Linked DNA regions of Homo sapiens: region 1 is linked to region 2. The links come from fine-mapping of genetic effects on gene expression. A gene starts in region 2. The other region holds a variant in brackets. All regions are shown on one strand. Distances are from middle to middle.

What was found.
Region 1: its variant is fine-mapped to the expression of CORT in nucleus accumbens (GTEx, PIP 0.98).

Annotation. Positions count from the first base shown.
Region 1 is chr1:10,686,230-10,696,069 of GRCh38, reverse strand. CASZ1 (castor zinc finger 1) reads left to right here. Exons shown (of 21, transcript NM_001079843.3): 4 at 2,158-2,196. The coding sequence starts at 2,181. Among named protein-coding and RNA genes, the nearest start is that of CASZ1, 110 kb to the left of the region's middle. RefSeq lists silencers at 1,092-1,151, 1,162-1,361, 1,472-1,641, 1,942-2,031, 9,444-9,738 and enhancers at 8,748-9,348, 9,349-9,840. The variant C/GC (reference allele first, on the strand shown) is at 4,610.
Region 2 is chr1:10,445,102-10,454,822 of GRCh38, reverse strand. It overlaps CORT (cortistatin), which reads right to left and starts at 4,792. Exons shown (of 2, transcript NM_001302.5): 1 at 4,501-4,792; 2 at 2,825-3,446. The coding sequence starts at 4,599. The coding sequence ends at 3,228. CENPS-CORT (CENPS-CORT readthrough) reads right to left here. Exons shown (of 4, transcript NM_199006.3): 4 at 2,670-3,446. The coding sequence ends at 3,422.

The DNA.
Region 1 (9,840 bases), 240 kb before region 2:
AAATATTGCAAAAATAGGCCAGCGCCATGTTGCTGGATGCTGTCCAAAGACCAGGGAAGCCTGGGCCCTGCTCCCCTCCCCTCATCTGAAGGCAGTGTGGCCCCTCCTGAAAGAGGAGCGCTGGGAGAGGCGAGGAGGGCAGCAGGGTAGGTGAAGAAGGGACGGAGAACCAGGTCCTTCCTTAGCAAGGCTGCCCAAGGCCCTGCTCACCCCACCGTCTCTTTCCTTGAGGCCCTCTGGGCCGGATGCGTCACTTAAGTCACCAACATATAAGGACTCTCAAAATATATGGCTGCAGCAGGGACATCTGGGGATGTCCCATGGTGCACGGTTCATGGAGGGGAGAACCCTCAAACTGCCTTCTCTGGCAGAAAAGAAAGAGGAGCACGGGCAGCACAAAGCGCCTGGCTGGCCATGGGCTGGCAGGAAATGAGGTTCCACGTTGAAGGGGACAGGCCTGGAGACGGCGTGGGGCGGGGGGGGGGGGGGTGGCGGGGAGGGGAGGAGGAGCCGGGATGGGCCTCAGACTCCCTGGTTGAGGGTGCCTGTGCTCTACTGAGCGCCCTTCCTAGGGCAGCGGCCAGAGGGGCAAGGCAGGGAGGAAGCGCAAGTGATGGCCGGGATCATGGGTCGGGGGCTGTGGGGAAAGTGGGGCGCCGATCTCCATTCGTCTGGCTGCGGGGCGGATGGCCCAACTTTGAGGGAGGAGTGGGCAGAAAGACCGGAAGACCGGGGAGGCTCTGGGAGGACACTTGGACCCGTTTTAAGGGCAAAACCAAAGCAACGCCGAGGAAACCCCACTGCGTGTCCCAGGCCGGCGCTCCTGGGGCCCAGGGCCGGGGACGCGCGGGGTGCGGGGGCGCGCGGGCCTGACTGCGCCCTGCCCCGCCTCGCCCCGCGCTCCTGTTCCTCCAGCTCCAGAAGCCGCCAGTGCTGTGAGGGGAACACGAAATCCCTGTGCTACCCCAGGAGCCCCGAGCCCGCAGGCAGCGGGCAGGGGAGCAGGGAAGCGCGCGGCCTGGCGGGCGCGGCCCCGCGGCGCCTCACACCTGCGCCCGCCCTCGCGGAAAAGTTAGCGCGGCCGCGCGGGTCGTGGGGCAGGCGCGCGCGGCGGCCGTCGGTCGCGCTCGCGGGGCCCGAGCGGCCGCTGGCAGCATGCGAGCGCGCGCGCGGCCGCCGGCGGCCGGCAAGAGTGGGCGCGTGCCCGCGGGCGCCTTACTCGGGCCGCGTTCCCCGCCCCGCGCCGGGTCCCCTCCCGCCAGCCCTGAGCGCAAGTCCCCGCCTCCTCCTCCCGGAGCCAGAGGTTTGGGGAATCGCAGAGCCAATGGAGCCGGCCGCCCTGCCAGTGCGGCGCGGGCGCGCGCGGCGGGGGCGCGCGGCGGGGGCGCGAGCGAGCGCGAGCCCATTCACTCCGGCACCGGGCGGCGGGCGGCGGGCGGGCGCACCGGGCGGCGGCGGCGGCGGCGGCGGCGGCGGCGGCGGCGGGGCCGCGCTCTGCTCTTTCACCTGCCGGGGCCGGCGCGGGCCGGGCCGAGGAGGCGGCGCCGCGGCCGCCCTGCCAATCACCGCGGCGCCTGGCAGCGCCCCCGGCCGCGCCCGCCCGCCCGCTCCCTCCTGCCAAACTGTTACCCTGAGTGTTACCGGCAGGAGCAATGACATCAGGGCTTTAAAACAACTTGTTATTCGGGGAGTAATCAGTTGCAATTAGGCATTAATTAAGTATTATGAAAGTTGATTATTTAAGTGAATTCGGCTTTCGACTCTCCGACTATGGTGAGTACCGGGCGCGGGCGGGGGAGGCCCGGGGGCCGCGGTCTCGGGCGGCGACCCGGGCGCGGGGCGCGGTCGGCGGGACGGGGGCGCCCCTGGGCCTCGCGGATCCCCCGGCCAGGGCCCCCAAGCCGGGGCCGCGCCGGCCGAGAGTTGCTGCCTTAGTTGGAGAAACTCAGGCGGCGCGGACCCGCGGGCGCGTGCGGGGCCGAGCGTGAGAAGCGGGCGGCGCGGAGGAGAAAGTTTCTCCGCCGCGGCCTCGGCGCCCGCCCGGGACGGGCCGCTCCTGCGGGGCGGGGGACAAGCAGGGCGGGCGGCCGGGGTCCCGCGAGACGCTAACCCCGTGTTTCTTCTCTCCCGGTCTTCCCCTGGTGGCGTTCTGCGAAGAGTTTGGGACCAAGGAGAAGAGAATGGATCTTGGAACAGGTACCGGCCGGTGGGAACGCAGGGGCGGCTCTTTCACTTTTCTTTCGCTTCTTTTACGGAAGTTCTTATTTTTAGCCCAATGAGGTGGCGGCGGGGCCGGGTGGGGGCCGGGAGGGTCGGGCGGCTGCCTCCCGGCGTCCCGGCCTCGGGATCGGCGACTTCTGAGGCTGTTGTTGTTGTTATTTGCCACTTGCTTAGAGGCTGTGACTAATGTGATGCTTGTCATTATGAAAGAACCGAGAGGAGCAGGAGCTGGGGGGCACCCAGAGAGAGGATTTAGGGGGTTTTTGTGGGGTTTTTGTTCTCCGTGTTTTTTGTATGGCTTCGTGTTTTTTTTCTGTGTGTGTGCCTTTTTTTTTTTTTTTTTTTTTTTTTTGTTCTCTGCAAAGATCTTTGTGTGTCTGGCTCTGGGGTGTGTGTTTTTATTTTTTTAGTGGGGGGTGGTTTAGTTTTTGAAAGCAGCGTCCTGTTGGGAAAGGTGGTTAGTCTGGTTTCGGGGCGACTGTCTCAAGGTAAAGGAATTTAATTTATTTGGGACAAGGCTGTGTCGGATGATCAAGCTGCTTATTATGGCTAATGAGTATTTTTCACCTGAGAATCTGTGGGATGAGGTGGCTGTTATCAGTTCAAAGTGAGGGGCCCCGGACTGTCTCCCACCTGCCTCTTTAGCCCCCACCCTAGGGGTGGTGATGGACCAGACAGACTACTCAACGTAGGCATCTGGGTTTGGGGGCCTCCTGTGGGACAAGGCCGGGGGCTCCAGGAGGCCTGGTGCTCACCTGGGGCAGTTTATCCTGATATTTTGGTGTTTTCTTGGGTTTAATCTAATTCTTTCCAGTGTTTTTGCCTTCAGCTCTTGCGGGCTTCCCATGGGCCCTGGCTATTGAAACCAAATTTTGACCAGGACCCTCACGTGCTAGGTTGACAAAAGCAGCTGTCTTCTTAAATGTTTTAAAAGAAACAAGCAGCCCGATCATTCATTGAGACTGATCTCTGAACTCTCCTGGTTCATTGATGGGATAGGTGATACTGGTGGCTGTTAGCGTTGTTGTTTATAATAGGCCCAAGTTCACAGCATCGGCCCTTGGGACCCATGAGCTGATATCTGACCTTCTAAAGGTCAGTGGGCAGAGAGACCGGAGGCAGCCCTGAGGGGATGAGGATGGGTGGCACGGTGGCCGGTGAAGAAGGGCCTGTGTTTGTTGGGGGGAGGTGTCATTTGCAGAGTTTGAGGACTGTGTGACACCAGGTGTGATCTTGGCTGGTCTGACGTGGAGGGCCTGGGGACCTCTGCGCCCGGGAAGGGTGTGACACCCCCTGCTGGGCAAAGTGGTAAAGGTGTCTAAGGCCAAGGCTGCCACCCTGCCCCTCCCTGCCCTCCACTCCCACAGAGAACCTGCCTGCCCCCACCTCCAGTCGGTGTCTCATCACCTCCCTCTCAGGCCCCACCCCCTTTCTTCGGAAATGGGGCCCCCACCCATCCCAGCCAAGAAGCAGACCTCAGAGATGGGCCTGGTGGCAATGCACCACCCCTTACCTGGGGCAGGAGAGCCTCTGCTTGTGGGCCAGCACACAGGACCCAGGCATTGCAGAGCTGGAAGGCAGGCCCTCTGGTCGGCCTCCTCCTAACCTGGGTGCCAGCTGGAGCCAGCGTCCATCCTCCTGCCATCCACCAACCAGTCCCTCCAAGTCTGTCGTGGGGACAGTACTCCAAAGCCCTTCTCTAGGGTGTCCTGACTGGAGCGAGGGCCTCCCAGCCCTGGTAGGAGGCAGGTGGCAGAGCCTCTTGTGGCTTCTCTCCTGGGCCTTAGGGAGACTGACTTCTCCCAGCACTCCAGGGACAGGCTCTGGAAACTTTTCCTAGAAGCTAGAAGGGACCCTGAGGTCAGCTGCTTCCTCCTGTAGCTGGAGTAGAGCACTCCCAGTGGGACTCAGGCCTGGACTCTGGCCACTCAGAGGGGAGGCCCAGGGTGGCAGAGTTCTGACTGTTTCCTGGAGGAGTCATCTGGTGATACCATCTCAGTCTCTTCTTTGAACTTGGAAGTTTCACTTATAATCTCAGAACTTCAGAAGAAAAGCAGTCTTCCCCCCACTTCACCAAAAAAGGGAAGCAGATGAGGACGCTGAGATCCCCTCTGAGCTGGTCCCTGGGCTGACTCCATGCTCATCTTCAGGAGCTGGGAACAGCTCCCTCAACTTCATAGTGCACACGGCATACAGCTGGGGCCATGGGCCTCGTCTCTGGCCGGGGCTCGTGGCTGGTGAAGTGAGGGTCCCTTCCTCTGGGGCAGCGTGGGCAGCTTCAGCCGAGGGCCTCTCTGACATAGTCCAAGGCCAGGGGCGCAGGCCTCGAAGGGCTGCTGGCATCATGGACCCACCATGCCTCCCTGATCGTAGGTTAACATCCCCGCGG[C/GC]CCCGGACACATCTAGGTCCTGAAGGCCTTCAGCCATGAGGAAGTCAGTGGTGGGAGAGCCAAGCCTTCTCAGGAGGGGACAGAAGGACCTCAGGACCCTCAGGGGCCATGTGGACCCCCTTTCCCCCACCATAGTTCAGCCAAGGGCTGGATCAATCTGGACGTCTTTAGCAATAAAAAATGCCGATGTCGTCCTAATTCACCAGGCCCCGAGATGACAGCAAATTTACATTTTTTAATTAAACTAGCAGCCAGTTTTTATGAGAGGGGGTTGGGTTATGCAAATCAAATGGTTGTGTACGGAAGATTAGGAGAGTTTGGGAATAAATTCCACAAATGCTAATAAAAAAAAAAGGAAAGAGAGGGAGGGAGGGAGGGAGGGGAGAGAGGAAGAGAGGAGGACATAGTTCCATTAGGCCCTTTTAGAGTGATTTCCCTGGGGGAGGGAGCGGGAAGGGGGGAGGGGAGATGGGAGGAAGCTTTCAGACACAGGTACATCCATCCTGCAGTTGGGAAGCTCCCAGGGTTAGGTCCCACCAGGCTGATTCCCAGGCCCTGAACACAGCTAGAAGCCAGGGTGAAAATGGCGGTGAAGCACGGGTGGAGCTCTGAGCAGGCGTTCGCCCTTGACTCGTGGGGATCTGATGATAGTTGCCCCTTCTCTTCTTGAGACAAAGGGGTGGGGCTGTCCAAGGCGCGGAGGAGCCAAGATAGGCTCTACAAGGTCAAGGGCCAAAGAGGCAAGAGGGCAACTTTAAAGGGATGGCCACGGACTGCAGGGGGTGCCGGTGAGGGACAGTGCTGCCCATGTGTCGCTGTGGCTGCAGCCTTGTCGTCGAGGCGGGTCAATGGGAGGAAGCCCGGCCGGTTTCTTTCTCCTTCTGGGGCTCCAGGCCAGGACCCCCTTGCATTGCCAGCAGATCCCCCATCGCAGACAGCCCAGGCCTCAACTGTGGGGAGGCCAGGAAGCGTGGGATCAGAAGCTGGGCCAGGCTGGCTCATTTTCCTGATTCTCAGTAGCCCCATGCTTTGAGAGCATACTGTCTTGAGGTAGGCCGCAGACTTCTTCTAGACGGTGTCTAAGCTGAGAGAGCAAAGAGCTTGGCATCCCCAACCCAGCCCCAGTGTGTGCTGCTCAGGCCCCTGCCCTGAGTGTCAACCACCTTCAGATCAGACCTTCCATGAGCTGCCAGGTCAAGGCCAGAGCCTTGCCAAGTGTGGAGGCTTCTAGGAACCTCACTAGCTCTGGTTACACCTTCGACCTGCCAGGCACCGGGGACTGAGAAGGTTCCTGTGCTGTACTGGAGGAAGAGATTCCACGCCGGGTTTAGGGCAGAGCAGATTGCTCTCAATTTCCTTCCTCCAGCCTTTACTTGGCCAGATACACCCACTCAACCAGTCTAAGCTGGGGCCAGCCCCTGTAGCCAGGTTGGGCACCGGTTTTGCCAGTCTGCTGCAGGGGGTAGGTGCTCTGGGGCCATCTTGGCAGAAAGGAGCTGTCAGAGCCCGGGACAGAATGGGCCATCTCGGAAGTCATGAGTTTCCTGGTACCATTCAAACAGAGGTTTGTGCTGTGCACCGGTTAGTGACATTTAGAGGGACTTGAGCATCAGATGACCTTTAAGATCTTCAGCTGTCTGACTCCCAACTTGATTTTGTTCAGTGGGGCAGTCCTGGCGGGTGGGAGTAGGGGGTGAGTGGACGAGGTGAGGAGCACATTATTTGGACCTTTTCTTTGGTGGAGAGCATTGGAGACAGGCAGCTCTGGGCTGTGAAGTGACCCTTTGAACCAGCCCTGGTTCTAGTTGCAAGACGTCAGAGGAAACTGAGGCTAAAAGGCCTAGCATAGCCTTTCCTCCCCAACAAGAGGCAGAGGCAGAAGGGCAGGTCCGAAAGGCTCCCTAGAGAGACCCCACCCCTGGCCCTTTTTCCCTGGTAGGGACCAGCGAGGAGAACCCATTCACTCTCCTCTCCAAGAAAGGCACTGAATGTGAGTGTTACTCAGACCTCTCTACTGGCCTTGTCGGTACTACTGGTGTTCCCCCAGCCCCCACAGCCCCAGAATCTGGCTGAGCTGCAGCTTGGGTTTTTATGATGGAAAAATAAAATAAATGCAGGCACCTTTGGAGGGCTAAGCCACGCAGCGGCATCTCCTCGTGAAAGTGGCTGCCCTGGCTCAAGGCCGTGCCCGCTGCCTGAGCAGGGGATTGGGTGGGGCTTGGAAAGGCTCTTGGCCCCAACTCCTCTTCTTCCTGGGTCCTGCCAGGTCAGTGGTGCAGCCCCAGCCTCCATCAGCCTCCTCTAGAACGGCTGGCCCAACACTTTTCCAGGGCTCAGCCATTTCTCCACCTGGCCCACCCCCCATGCCCCCAGGCCCCAAGGCTCACCTTCTAACACGGCCTTCCCTGAGCTGATTTTTACACCCTGACCACCCTGGCCGCTGCTCCCACCTCTTCCTCCTTTTCCTCCTTCTCCTCCTCATCTTCAGAGGGGGAAGGAAGTTGCACTGTAGTAATTACCGCCCGTGGGTCCCCACGGCAAGCAGCAGCTGTTCTGGGGTAGCTGGGCCAGGGTACAATGAGTAGGGAGAAGCTGGGAGCAGGAGGAGGGCGGGCAGCCCCAGTGTGCAAAAGAGGAGGGGCAGCCTCGCCGGGACCACCTGTGCAGGGCAGCAGCTTGGTGGTCTAGCGCACACCCCTCTGGCTGCCTGGCCACAGAACAGCACCCTGACACCCTCGACTCAGCAGGATGTAAGACACCCATGTGGGAGGCGAGGCCTGAAACCCAGGAGGCATGGGAGGCTCTCCTGCAGCAAGAGGGACGGAAATGAGGACTGCCCGGGCCCCTGTGTTGGCAGCGTCTGCCTAGTGGAGGGAGAGGAGCGGTCTGCTGTCCCACCAGGCCGAGGAGCCAGGAGCCAGGGACCATGCAGCTTTGTGAAAGAGTGGCCTTAAGGGACCTCCCTCCGCCACCATGCTTTCTAGACTCCTAGCCAGCCCCTTCTCTCTGCGCCTTGTCCTCCCCCTCCCTCCAAGAGCAGAACTCTTGCTTCCCATTTTGCAACCACGTTTTTCTGTCTTTTTCATCCAGGCCACCCAGCTCCCTAAAGCCGGGCCCTCCCTGCTACCTTTCTTGCCCCATGCAACCTTTCCAGCCTCACACCCCGTTGGCCCTGGAAAAAGATAGAGAAGCTGCTGGCTGCGAGCCTGCTGTTCTGGGGCTCCGGGTAGACCTGTGACGTTGCTGTGCCAGGACCCAGCACTCGGACTCATGTGCCCTGATCCCCAGGAGGCCAGGGCCCTTGTTTTCCTCTGCCACGGCTGCTCCTAATGGTGACCATTAGATGGTAGCTGGTGTACTGCCACCTCCTCCCCGGGCCTGGTACGGGCCGGGGCTCACGCCTTCCTGCTGTAAGTGCTGGTGGAACTGATTGATTGATGTGCCTCTTCCCCAAGTGCCTCCCCGGCTTCTTAGTGGGGGCAGAAGGAGGAAGGCAGGAAATGTTGGCCAATTCCCTTGGGACCTGGGTTTTAGCTCCTTGAGAGCTTTCTAGAGCCTGGTTTACAGGAAGGAGCGAGGCTGGGATTTGGGATGACGTGAAAGGGGCAGGGAAGCCCTAAGGATAAAGACAGGAGTGTTGATGGTTGAATGGGACCCACAGTAACTCCTAACCATGACCATGGCCTGGGACTGGGACGTCAGTCTGCTGCCCAGTGGGGACAGGATGGCTGCAGCCAGAGGGTGATCTGGGCCCTTCTCCACTTCCTCCCTTGCCCATCTCCCTCTCCCCTTTCTCTCTCCTCCTGAGCAGACCTCACCACTGCATGTCTGCCCTCTCTCATTCTCTTCCCCGCTTCCGGGATCCCTCCAGCTAGACAAACCCAGGGCAGGGAGTGAGGCCAGAAAGACAGGGATACACCCATACTGAGGGCCAGCCAGGCGCCAGGGCTTCAGGCCTCTGCCCCGGGCGTGGTATGTGGGCCACTCCTGGCCGGGGCATCTGCTCTTAGAATGTCCCACAGGCCTGACTCTGGGGTCTCCTCTGGCCCTTCTGGGCCCTGCTGGTGCTGTAATCACTCACCTGCTGACACCCTTCCTAAAGCCAAGAGGGCTGTCTCTTGATGCCACCTGGCTGAGGCTGGGGCACTGCCTGGCTTTGGAGGAGAAGGCAGGAGCTGGGAAACGGACACATGTTGTGTTTCCAGAGACCAGGTGTTCCCAAAGGTCGCCTGGCCTTTTCTTATGGGGCTCTTTCAGTGATCTAAGGGGGCCTTGGGAGGGACTGCGCTGTGTGAGAATGGGGGACTGGAGGAGCCGGGCAGAGCTTTAGATGGGGGGACCCTAGTGCAGCGGGAGAGCAGGAGGCGTCCCAGAGGCCTGTTGGGAGAGACTCCTGGAAGTTTTGTCACCGGGAAGTGCCTCTTCCCTGCAGCTGTGATCCTCACCGCCCTCTAGCCCAGTGCCTCCCTGTCTGTCACCCCTTCAGCCTGGGAACCCAAGGCCACAGGAAGCCGGGCTGCCTCGCAAAAGGATGACCCGGCTCTCCACTGCCCGGCAGGGGGTGCCCCACGGCATCTGCCCCCCATCCTTTTAGGTGTGGGGCAATGTGGTCAGGACCTGGTCCAGGCCTTCTGGCCACGGGTGGGGGAGGGGCAGCCTAGCGTCCCCACCCCCAGAGGTTCCTTGGCTGAGTTTGTTTGCCAGGGTGACCTGTTTAATCATCTCATTTTCTGGTGGCCGTTTATTCCTCGTTTCCACGGTTACGGCCCCATTAAGGGGAGAAGCAATAAGGCGGTGAGTCAAACAGGTAATAAAAACATGCAGAGCCCCTGTGCACCAAGAGAGGGTGGCGGGGAGGGGCGCAGTGAGCTGAGACGGCCTGGGGGGAAGCCCAGGTGACACCCTACCCGCCTTGTCTTCCAGAGGCCCGAGTGTCCCCAAGACCCAGTCCTCGGCTTAGAACTGTCCCCAGCCCTTGGTCCCCTGGGCAACAGGCTGTCCCAGGTAAAACAGGAAGGAGAAAGGTGAGAGGGGGCGTGATACAAGCCCCCCCAGGGCTGCCCCATAGTTGGTGTGTGACCTGTTTCCAGGCCCCACCTCGTGCTCCCTTGGTAGGGGCGGGGGATGATTTCTGACATTGGTTTGAGCTCTAGAATTTTTTTTCTGCCAACTTTATCAGAAAGCATATTTGTGGTGAGTGCTGCTAACAGGGCCAGTCCAGTGAGTAAATA
Region 2 (9,721 bases):
CTCTTGCTCTTGCTCTCACTGTGTGATACACTGGGTCCTACTTGGCTTTCTGTAATGATTGGAAGCTTCCTGAGGCCTCACCAGAAACTGAGCAGATGCCTGGTGCCATGATTTTTTTTTTTTTTTTTTTTTTAAGTAGAGATGGGGTTTCACCGTTTTGGTCAGGCTGGTCTGGAAATCCTGACCTTGTGATCCGCCTGCTTCGGCCTCCCAAAGTGTTGGGATTACAGGCGTGAGCCACCGCACCTGGCCAGGTATTTCTTTATAGCAGCACAAGAACGGCCTAAAACATTCCAAATGAAACCTCTCTCTCTATGGAAAACGCTACTGTTTTTAAGATGGGCTGCCCCTGGCCAGGCGCGGTGGTTCATACCTGTAATCCCAGCACTTTGGGAGGCTGAGGTGGGTGGATCACAAGGTCAGGAGATCGAGACCATCCTGGCTAACACGGTGAAACCCCATCTCTACAAAAAAATAGAAAAAATTAGCTGGGTGTGGTGGCGGGTGCCTGTAGTCCCAGCTACTCGGGAGGCTGAGACAGAAGAATGACCTGAGCCCGGGAGGTGGAGCTTACAGTGAGCCAAGATCACTTCACTGCACTCCAGCCTGGGTGGCAGAGGGAGACTCTGTCTCAAAAAAAAAAAAAAAAAAAAAAAGACGGGCTGCCCTTCAACAGGTGCTGCTTACATCAAGGTAAGTATCTCCCCTGAGCTTCCCAGTCTGAGGAGTTTCCTAAAGCCTGGAATCCTTTGCTGCCAGCCCTGAAATAGGAAAGCTGTGAGTGTCTGTTGTCCTTCATTCCTCCTCAGCAGTTAGGGAGCTGTTCTGGTGCCAAATCCTGGACAAAATAACAAGAGCATGAACTTGAAGTTGCCCAGGGCCTGATTACCCAGATCTACACACCTGACTCTACTGAACTACAGAAAAGGCCACCAAAAACCAGATGGTGGGAAATGACCATTTTACCCTGATTTATTAATCACAAGCATATTCATCTGGTCTAACATGCAGCTGATGCCAGTTAATGTCGTATGAAGTCCCCTGAACTAAGGTAGGCTTAGACTTGAATTTCCTGGCAGTAGCACTAGTAGAGCCTCATTATCCTACAGATAACTACTTAGTTAAAAGGTAAAATCCCCAATCTTAAAGTCTGTGTGGATGACCCCAATGTATTTTATTTTTTGAGACGGAGTCTCACTCTGTCGCCCAGGCTGGAGTGCAGTGGCACAATCTTGGCTCACTGCAATCTCTGCCTCCCGGGTTAAGGTGATTCTCCTGCCTCAGCCTCCTGAGTAGCTGGGATTACAGGTATGTGCCACCAAGCCCGGCTAATTTTTGGTGTTTTTAGTAGAGACAGGGTTTCACCACGTTGATCAGGCTGGTCTTGAACACCCGACCTCAGGTGATCCACCCAGCTCGGCCTCCCAAGGTGCTGGGATTACAGGTGTGAGCCACCACGCCCAGCCCCTATTTTATCTTATTTTACTATTATTTTTGAGACAGAGTCTCGTTCTGTCACCCAGGCTGGAGTACAGTGGCATGACCTCGGCTCACTACAACTTCCGCCTCCCAGGCTCAAGTGATTCTCGTGCCTCAGCCTCCCAAGTAGCTGGGATTACAGGGGTGCACCATCACGCCTGGGTAATTTTTGTATTTTTAGTCGAGACAGGGTTTCATCATGTTGGCCAGGCTGGTCTCGAACTCCTGGCCTCAAGTGATCTGCCTGCCTCAACCTCCCACAGTGCTGGGATTACAGGCATGAGCCACCGCGCCCTGCCGACCCCAATTTAAAAACTGAAAAACAATAAGCATGGCTTCTTTCTAGAAAAAATCTTTAAAAAAAACAAAGTTCTGGAAGGTTAGCTGGCCTTTCAGGCAGGCATCTTCCACCAGTGCACTGACCCAATTCCTGGTCTCCTAAAGCTGCTGTGTTTGGAAACGTGGATGCTATTAAGTCTCTTCCATCACATTATACTTTATTCAGCTAGTAATTATGAATATGAGCTCAGCTCGGCAGAAAACAACGGACGGTCAGCAGCCATTCTCAGGGAGTCCGCTCCCCTGGTGTCCAGAGAAGAGAATATTCCCGTGTCCTCCAGCCAGCCTTTGCTGGTTTTCCCAATGAAGTTTAGCATCGAAAAACCTTCATGGCCAGGCGCAGTGGCTCACGCTGGTAATCCCAGCACTTTCTGAGGCCAAGGCAGGTGGATCACCTGAAGCCAGGAGTTCGAGACCAGCCTGACCAACATGGAGAAACCCCGTCTCTACTAAAAATACAAAAATTAGCCAGGCGTGGTGGTGTGTGCCTGTAGTCCCAGCTACTTGGGAGGCTGAGGCAGGAGAGTCACTTGAACCTCGGAGGCGGAAGCCACAGTGAGCTGAGACCGTGCCATAGCACTCCAGCCTGGGCAACAAAAGCGAAACTCCATCTAAAAAAAAAAAAAAAAAAATTAGCCAGGCATGGAAGCGCATGCTGTAGTCCCAGCTACTCAGGAGGCTGAGGCAGGAGAATCACATGAACCTGGGAGGCGGAAGTTGCAGTGAGCTGAGACCGCGCCATAGCACTCCAGCCTGGGTGACAGCTAGACTCCGTCTCAAAAAAAAAAAAATTCTGTGGGTAGCCTTCATTCCTCCCAAAGCAAATCTGAAGCTATAATCCATGAAAAGAATTGCAACCCATTAAGCTACTAATTAAAACTGGTACATAACAGCAAGTTCGAGTATCAGTTTCACAGGCATGTCAGCAGGTTTTCTGTTTAATATGTTTTAAAATTAATTTCAGCTAAAACATGAGGAATAATCATTTTGCTCTTCGAGCCTGATATTAAAAATTTGCTTTTAATGTGAGGGAAATATTTTTTAAATTAGACAATTCATATCAATTCATAAACTGAAATAAGATGTTATTCTGAACTCTTAATTGTGTAGCCTTTAGCTATTTTATTTTAAATCAAAGACAGAGCTTCCCAGCACCATAATGAACATCAGAAGAAAAGCCCAGTGCCCGCACTCAGCACAGTCCAGTCGAACCACAAAAAAATCTTTATCAAAGATCTTCACTTTGGGTTCCAAATTACTCAAGACACGTCAGTATTGGGCATTATTGGAATTTAAATAACAAACACTTTTCAAATGACTTGGGAAGGAGGAGAGGAAAGATCACTGCTGCTTAATACATTTTATTCAGGTCTGTCATTACACTTGCGTGAGCATTCATGGGTGAGGTTTTATTTGCAGGAGGAGAAGGTCTTCCAGAAGAAGTTCCTGCAGGGCATTCTGTCCCGGCGCGCAGATTGCTGGGGGGGTGCGCCTTCCTGCCGCCTGGCCACCTCCCGGGCTTCCTCTCCTATGAGGGGCCCGGCACTGGCCTGGGAGGTCCACTCAAACCACCAAGCGAGGAAAGTCAGGAGGCTGCTTTTCCTTATTCCTGCCGCTTCCTGCATATGCTTTTAAAGAGAAGCAGATGGCAAAGGAAAGAAAACTCAGCAATCTGGCTCAGGCAGCAAGCATTCAAAGATATGCAATCTCCTCCTTACTTAAAAAAAAAAATGATCTAAAAGACTACCCTGGAGAAAAGAGAAAGAAAATATTAAAATGAAAAGATGCTCCATAGCGATAAGCCTCATTTCCATTTAACGGATGAGGATGAGAAAGTGAAGAGAATACCTTAAAGAAATTGCTTTAATTAGAGAAAAGTTGGTCATTTTAAGTCAAGGGAAGAAACCTGGTTTTGCTCCATACTCTGCTAAGGTCCTTAATTAGGAGAGGTCGGGAAATCTGCCATTTTCCCCTCAGTGACTGGCAGCTGAGAAGCCCGGAGTTGGATCAGGCTAATTTACTCATTCTCCCACCTTTGGCCACACTCCTGGATGTTCACAAGTTGCTTTCTGAGACGATGGGACTGAAACAAACGTTATATTCTGGTTTTTCAAATTCCTTAGAAAGCTTCTGGGAGTAATCTGCTGATAAATGGCCTGCCTGAAACTCATCTGGTAATTTTAGAGAAAAATCCATTTTTAATGCTCAACTTTATATACCCTTTCTTGGAACTTTCTCAAAATGGAAAAAAGAACAATCAATCACCTCACGAAGTTACAAATTCTCACAACGGAAAATGTAATGATGCCAATTACTCTGAGCCAGTGGGAGCCTGTGCTATGTATAACTGAAGGCTCTGGAAGGGCTGTCGCAGCTCCATGCCTGCCCTGCAGTGGACGGGTACACTCGCTTCCCCTTTCCCAGACACCCGACGGAGGGCCCTCCTTGAGCTGCACAGGTTTCCAGCAGGCTTCATGGGTTGGGACATGTAACTGAGGATCAGTGGTCTGAATGCGGCATCCCAGTACCTCGGGCCAGCCAAGAACACTACAAAGTTGAGCCGTGTGTCCTGTCCAAGCTGTGAAGTGCAACACACGTGCACACACACACACCATGCAGGCCAAAAAGCCAACAAGAGACAGAGAGTGGGCTAGCGTGTGGCCACGTCGGGACTGTACTCACCTCGCTGTCTCGGCCGGTGGGGCCACCCTCCAGGGGCAGGGCAGCGGTGGCCGTGGCCCCGGAGAGCAGCAGCAGCAGGAGGCCGGGGGACAATGGCATCTTGTGGGCTGACTGGAGCTTCTCTCCCACCCTGCTGCTGCTCTTCCTTCCTGGCAGCCCTGAAATCAATGTTTTGGGGACTTGGGTCTCTTCTTTGGAGCTTGGTGGGTATTTTAAGCCCAATCTCCAGCTGTTTTTGTGTCTATACATGTCTAACGCCTGGATCCTCTTCCCTCTTCCCTCGCGCAGTGACGCAGAAGCTGGAGCAATCAGTGCCCACAAAAGCGCTCTGGGGTTGGATGTAACCCCTTAATTAAAGCTTCAGGTCTTTTCCTGTGTTTAGAGCGAATTTGCTCTTATTTTGGAACGCATGTGCGCTTGCTTCTGGAGAAGTTCTGCTTCCTCGTAATTATGCCTATAGCAGGCAGGAAGCCGTGAGAACAAAAACAAGTGATTTAACATAATATAAAATTAGCCTAGGATAAGGAGCTTGAATGTGAAATTGTGCCCATGTGAAAGTATGACTGAAACTCATCCAGTAATTTCAGAGACATTCTTCTACTATGGGCAGAGAAACAAGGAGGCAATGGGGGCTCAGAGACGCTACGATCGTATCCGCTGGTTTCACCCAATTGTCGGCAAGGAGGCCCCAAGAATCGCTCCCAGTACTGCCTCTCAGCCCAGCATGCCAGACCCACTGTCCTCTAGGCCAGGCCTTCTCAAACTGAAGTGCAGACGGATCACTTTGCAGGCAGGTCCTGATGCACTGGGGCAGGGAGGAGTTGAGAGCTGCATTTCCAACAAGCACCCAGGCACTGCTGGCCCTGGGGCAGCCGGGCTCTGGCCCACCCAGGCTGGGGTGCAATGGCGCGCTCAACTCACTGCAACCTCCGCCTCCTGGGTTCAAGTGATTCTCCTGCCTCAGCCTCCCGAGTAGCTGGGATTACAGGCACCCGCCACCATGCCTGGCTAATTTTTGTATTTTTTGTAGGGACAGGGTTTCACCACGTTGGCCAGGCTGGTCTCGAACTCTTGATGGTCCAGTGTTTTCTTTTTTTGAGATGGAGTCTCGCTCTTGTTGCCCAGGCTGGAGTGCAATGGTGTGATCTCGGCTCACCGCAACCTCTGGCTCCCGGGTTCAAGTGATTCTCCTGCCTCAGCCTCTCGAGTAGCTGGGATTACGGGCATGTGCCACCACGCCTGGCTAATTTTGTATTTTTAGTAGAGACGGAGATTCTCCATGTTGGTCATGCTGGTCTCGAACTCCCGACCTCAGGTGATCCACCCACCTCGGCCTCCCAAAGTGCTGGAATTACAGGTGTGAGCCACTGCCCCCAGCCTGGACCAGTGTTTTCTTTTTGTTTTTGGATGGAGTCTCGCTCTGTCACCCACGCTGGAGTACAGTGGCATGATCTTGGCTCACTGCAATCTCCATCTCCCGGGTTCAAGCAATTCTCCTGCCTCAGCCTCCAAGTACCTGGGACTACAGGCGCTGGCCACCATGCCCAGCTAATTTTCTGTATTTTTAGTAGAGACAGAGTTTCACCATGTTAGCCAGGCTGGTCTCAATTTCCTGACCTCATGATCTGCCCGCCTTGGCCTCCCAAAGTGCTGGGATTACAAGCGTGAGCCACCGCGCCCGGCCTGGTCCAGTGTTTTCTAAACTGCTCCTGACCACCCACTTGTGGGTCATAGGCCAGTACTTTCCTTTCGAATGAAATTAAAATTAGTGTGCATCACCCGTAGTAAGGATAAATAATGATTCGCATTGTGTGTGTCAGGTGTGAGATGTGCTGTTACTGCAGGGCACAGTCAGTTTGGGAAGCAGTGCCCGGCCCTGCCCTTGGCCAGCTCCCAGGGCTCTCTCTCCTCCTGAGGCTGGCACCACTGCTGAGAGTGCAGACCATGGAGTCCCTCTCTGTGCCACCTGCTGGTTCTTCCTCACAGGCCCTCATTGCTGAATCACACAGACAAATGCACAGACCCCTTTGCCCAACGAGACACCGAGTAAAATCTGAAACATCCACCCAAACCTGCTACAGATGACCAGCATCCAAGGCAAGGCTATAAATTGAGGTAACGCAACCCAAAACTGCCGGCACTTTCTAGAAGTGAACATGTTTGTTTTCAGTTTTCCAAAGTCCTGGTTTACACCTTCAGCAGGGAAATCTCAATCTTGAATTTGTCACAGTCTTTTTGCTTATGTTAAAATCCTAGGTAAGATCAGCATGGCCTGCTGGCCAGAGGCTTATACATCGTATGTTGCTTCATCTTTTATTTATTTTGTTTTTTGTTTTTTTTTGTTTGAGATGGAGTCACTCTGTTGCCCAGACTGGAGTGCAGTGGCTCGATCTCAGCTCACTGCAAACTCCGCCTCCCAGGTTCACACCATTCTCCTGCCTCAGCCTCCTGAGTAGCTGGGACTACAGGTGCCCACCACCACGCCCGGCTGATTTTTTTGTATTTTTAGTAGAGATGGGGTTTCACTGTGTTAGCCAGGATGGTCTCGATCTCCTGACCTCGTGATCCGCCCGCCTCGGCCTCCCAAAGTGCTGGGATTATAGGCATGAGCCACCGCACCTGGCCCATCTTTTATTTCTGTACCAAAATAATTCCCACAAATGACACTAAAAATTTTGAGTTATATTTGCAGATGAGACATTCACAGCAGTTCAGCCAGCTTCTTTTTGTTTTTGAGACGGAGTCTTGCTCTGTCACCCAGGCTGGAGTGCAGTGGCACAACTTCAGCTCACTGCAACCTCTGCCTCCCAGGTTCAAGGGATTCTCCTGTCTCAGCCTCCCAAGTAGCTGGGATTACAGGCAGGAGCCACCACGCCCAGCTAATTTTTGTATTTTTAGTAGAGATTTCACCATGTTGGCCAGGCTGGTCTCAAACTTCTGAACTCAAGTGATCCACCCATCTCAGCCTCCCAAAGTGCTGGGATTACAGGCATGAGACCACCACACCCGGCCTCACCAGCTTCCTATATCGTTAGTCTAGTGTGCCAATTTTATTCAATGAGCTCATTAAACATTCTGAGCACCCAGTATGGAACTTGCAATACCACAAGGGACCCACACCACCCACACCCTGACAGAGGTGTTGCAGCCTCAAAGAAATCGGATACATAGACACAAATGAAAGACAAGGACATTTTTCAGTGCGAGAAGAAGTGTGCAAAGGGGAATGTGCTGCAAATTGGGGAAGGCTTCATGAGAACTGATAATGACTGTTTCAAGAAGGTGACAAACTTTAGGAGGTGGAGACAAGAGGATCACTTAAGCCCAGGAGTTCAAGACCAGACTGGGCAACATAGCAAGACCCCATCTCTACCAAAAAAAAACAAAAATTTAGCCAGGCATGGCAATGCACACCTGCAGTCCTGACTACTTGGGAGGCTGAGGCGAGAGATTCGCTTGAGCCCAGGAATTCAAGACCAGCCTGGGCAACATGGCAAAACTCCATCTCTACAGAAATTAGCTGGACGTGGAGGCACATACCTGTGGTCTCAGCTACTTAGGGGGCTGAGGTAGGAGGATCACCTGAGCATGGGAGGTCAAGGCTGCAGTGAGCCAAGATTGTGCCACTGCACTACAGCATGGGTGACAAAGTGAGACTTTATGACAAAAAAAAAAAAGAAAAAATTTAGCCAGGTGTGGCAACACACACCTACAGTCTCGGGCACTTGGGAAGCTGAGGCAGGAGGATTGCTTGAACCCAGGAATTCGTGGCTGCAGTGAGCTGTGATCATGCCACTGTACTGCAGCCTGGCTGACATAGCAAGAGCCCATCTCAAAAAAAAAAAAAAAAAAAAAAAGGCCGGGTGCAGTGACTCATGCCTATAATCCCAGCACTTTGGGAGGCTGAGGCAGGAGGATCACTTGAGCCCAGGAGTTCAAGACTAGCCTGGGCAACATGCAAAACCTCACCTCTACCAAAAAAAAAAACAAAAAAAAAAACTAGCTGGACATGGTGGCACACACCTGTGGCCCCAGCTACTTGGGGGGCTGAGGCAGGAGGATCACCTGAGCTTGGGAGGTAGAGGCTGCAGTGAGTCAAGATTGAGCCCCTGTACTCCAGCATGGGCGACAAAGTGAGACCTTGTCTCAAAAAGAAAAGAAAACTTAGCCAGGTGTGGTAACACACACCTGCAGTCTTGGGTACTTGGGAGGCTGAGGCAGGAGGATTGCTTGAGCCCAGGAATTCATGGCTGCAGTGAGCTGTGATATACCACTGTACACAGCAAGAGCCCATCTCGAAAAAGAAAAGAAAAAAGAAAAGGCCAGGTGCAGTGACTCATGCCTATAATCTCAGCACTTTGGGAGGTTGAGGCAGGAGGATCACTTGAGTCCAGCTCAGGAGCTTGAGACCAGCCTGGGCAACATTCTGAGACCCTATCTCCACAAAAAAAACTAAAAAATTAGGCAGGCATGGTAGCGCATGCCTGTAGTCCCAGCTACTCAGGAGGCTGAGGCAGGAGGATCACTTTAGCCTGGGAGGTGGAGGCTGTAGTGAGTCATGATTGTGCCACTGCACTCTAGTCTGGGTGACAGAGTGAGACGCTGTCTCAATGAAAAAAAAAAAGCACAAAGTCTCTGAAAGTTATACAGCTACTAGGGTTGCAAACCCAAGAAGCAAACCCAGATCTTTCAACCTTTGGAAAGTCTATAGTATCTATTCCCTAAACTCTTCTTGATGAGTTTTATTATTTATTTATTTTATCTATTTTATTCTACTTTATTTTATTTTATTTTGAGACTTAGTCTCACTCTGTCACCCAGGCTGGAGTGCAGTGGCACAATCTCGGCTCACTGCAGCCTCTGCCTCCTGGGTTCAAGCGATTCTCCTGCCTCAGCCTCCCGAATTTATTTTATTTTTTAGAGTCGGGGTCTTGTTCTGTCACCCAGGCTGCAGTGCAGTAGCACAGTCACCTCACTAAAGCCTTGAACTCCTGGGATCAAGCAACCGTCTGCCTCAGCCTCCTGAGTAGCTAACTGGGTCTACAGGCATGCATCACCATGCCTAACTTATTTTTTACTTTTTTTAGAGATGGGGTCTCACTGTGCTGCCCAGGCTGGTCTCAAACTCCCAGACTCAAGTGAATCTCCTGCCTCAGCCTTCCAAGTTGCTGGGACTACAGACACAAGCCACTGCACCTGGCCAATAAGGAGTTTAAAGAGT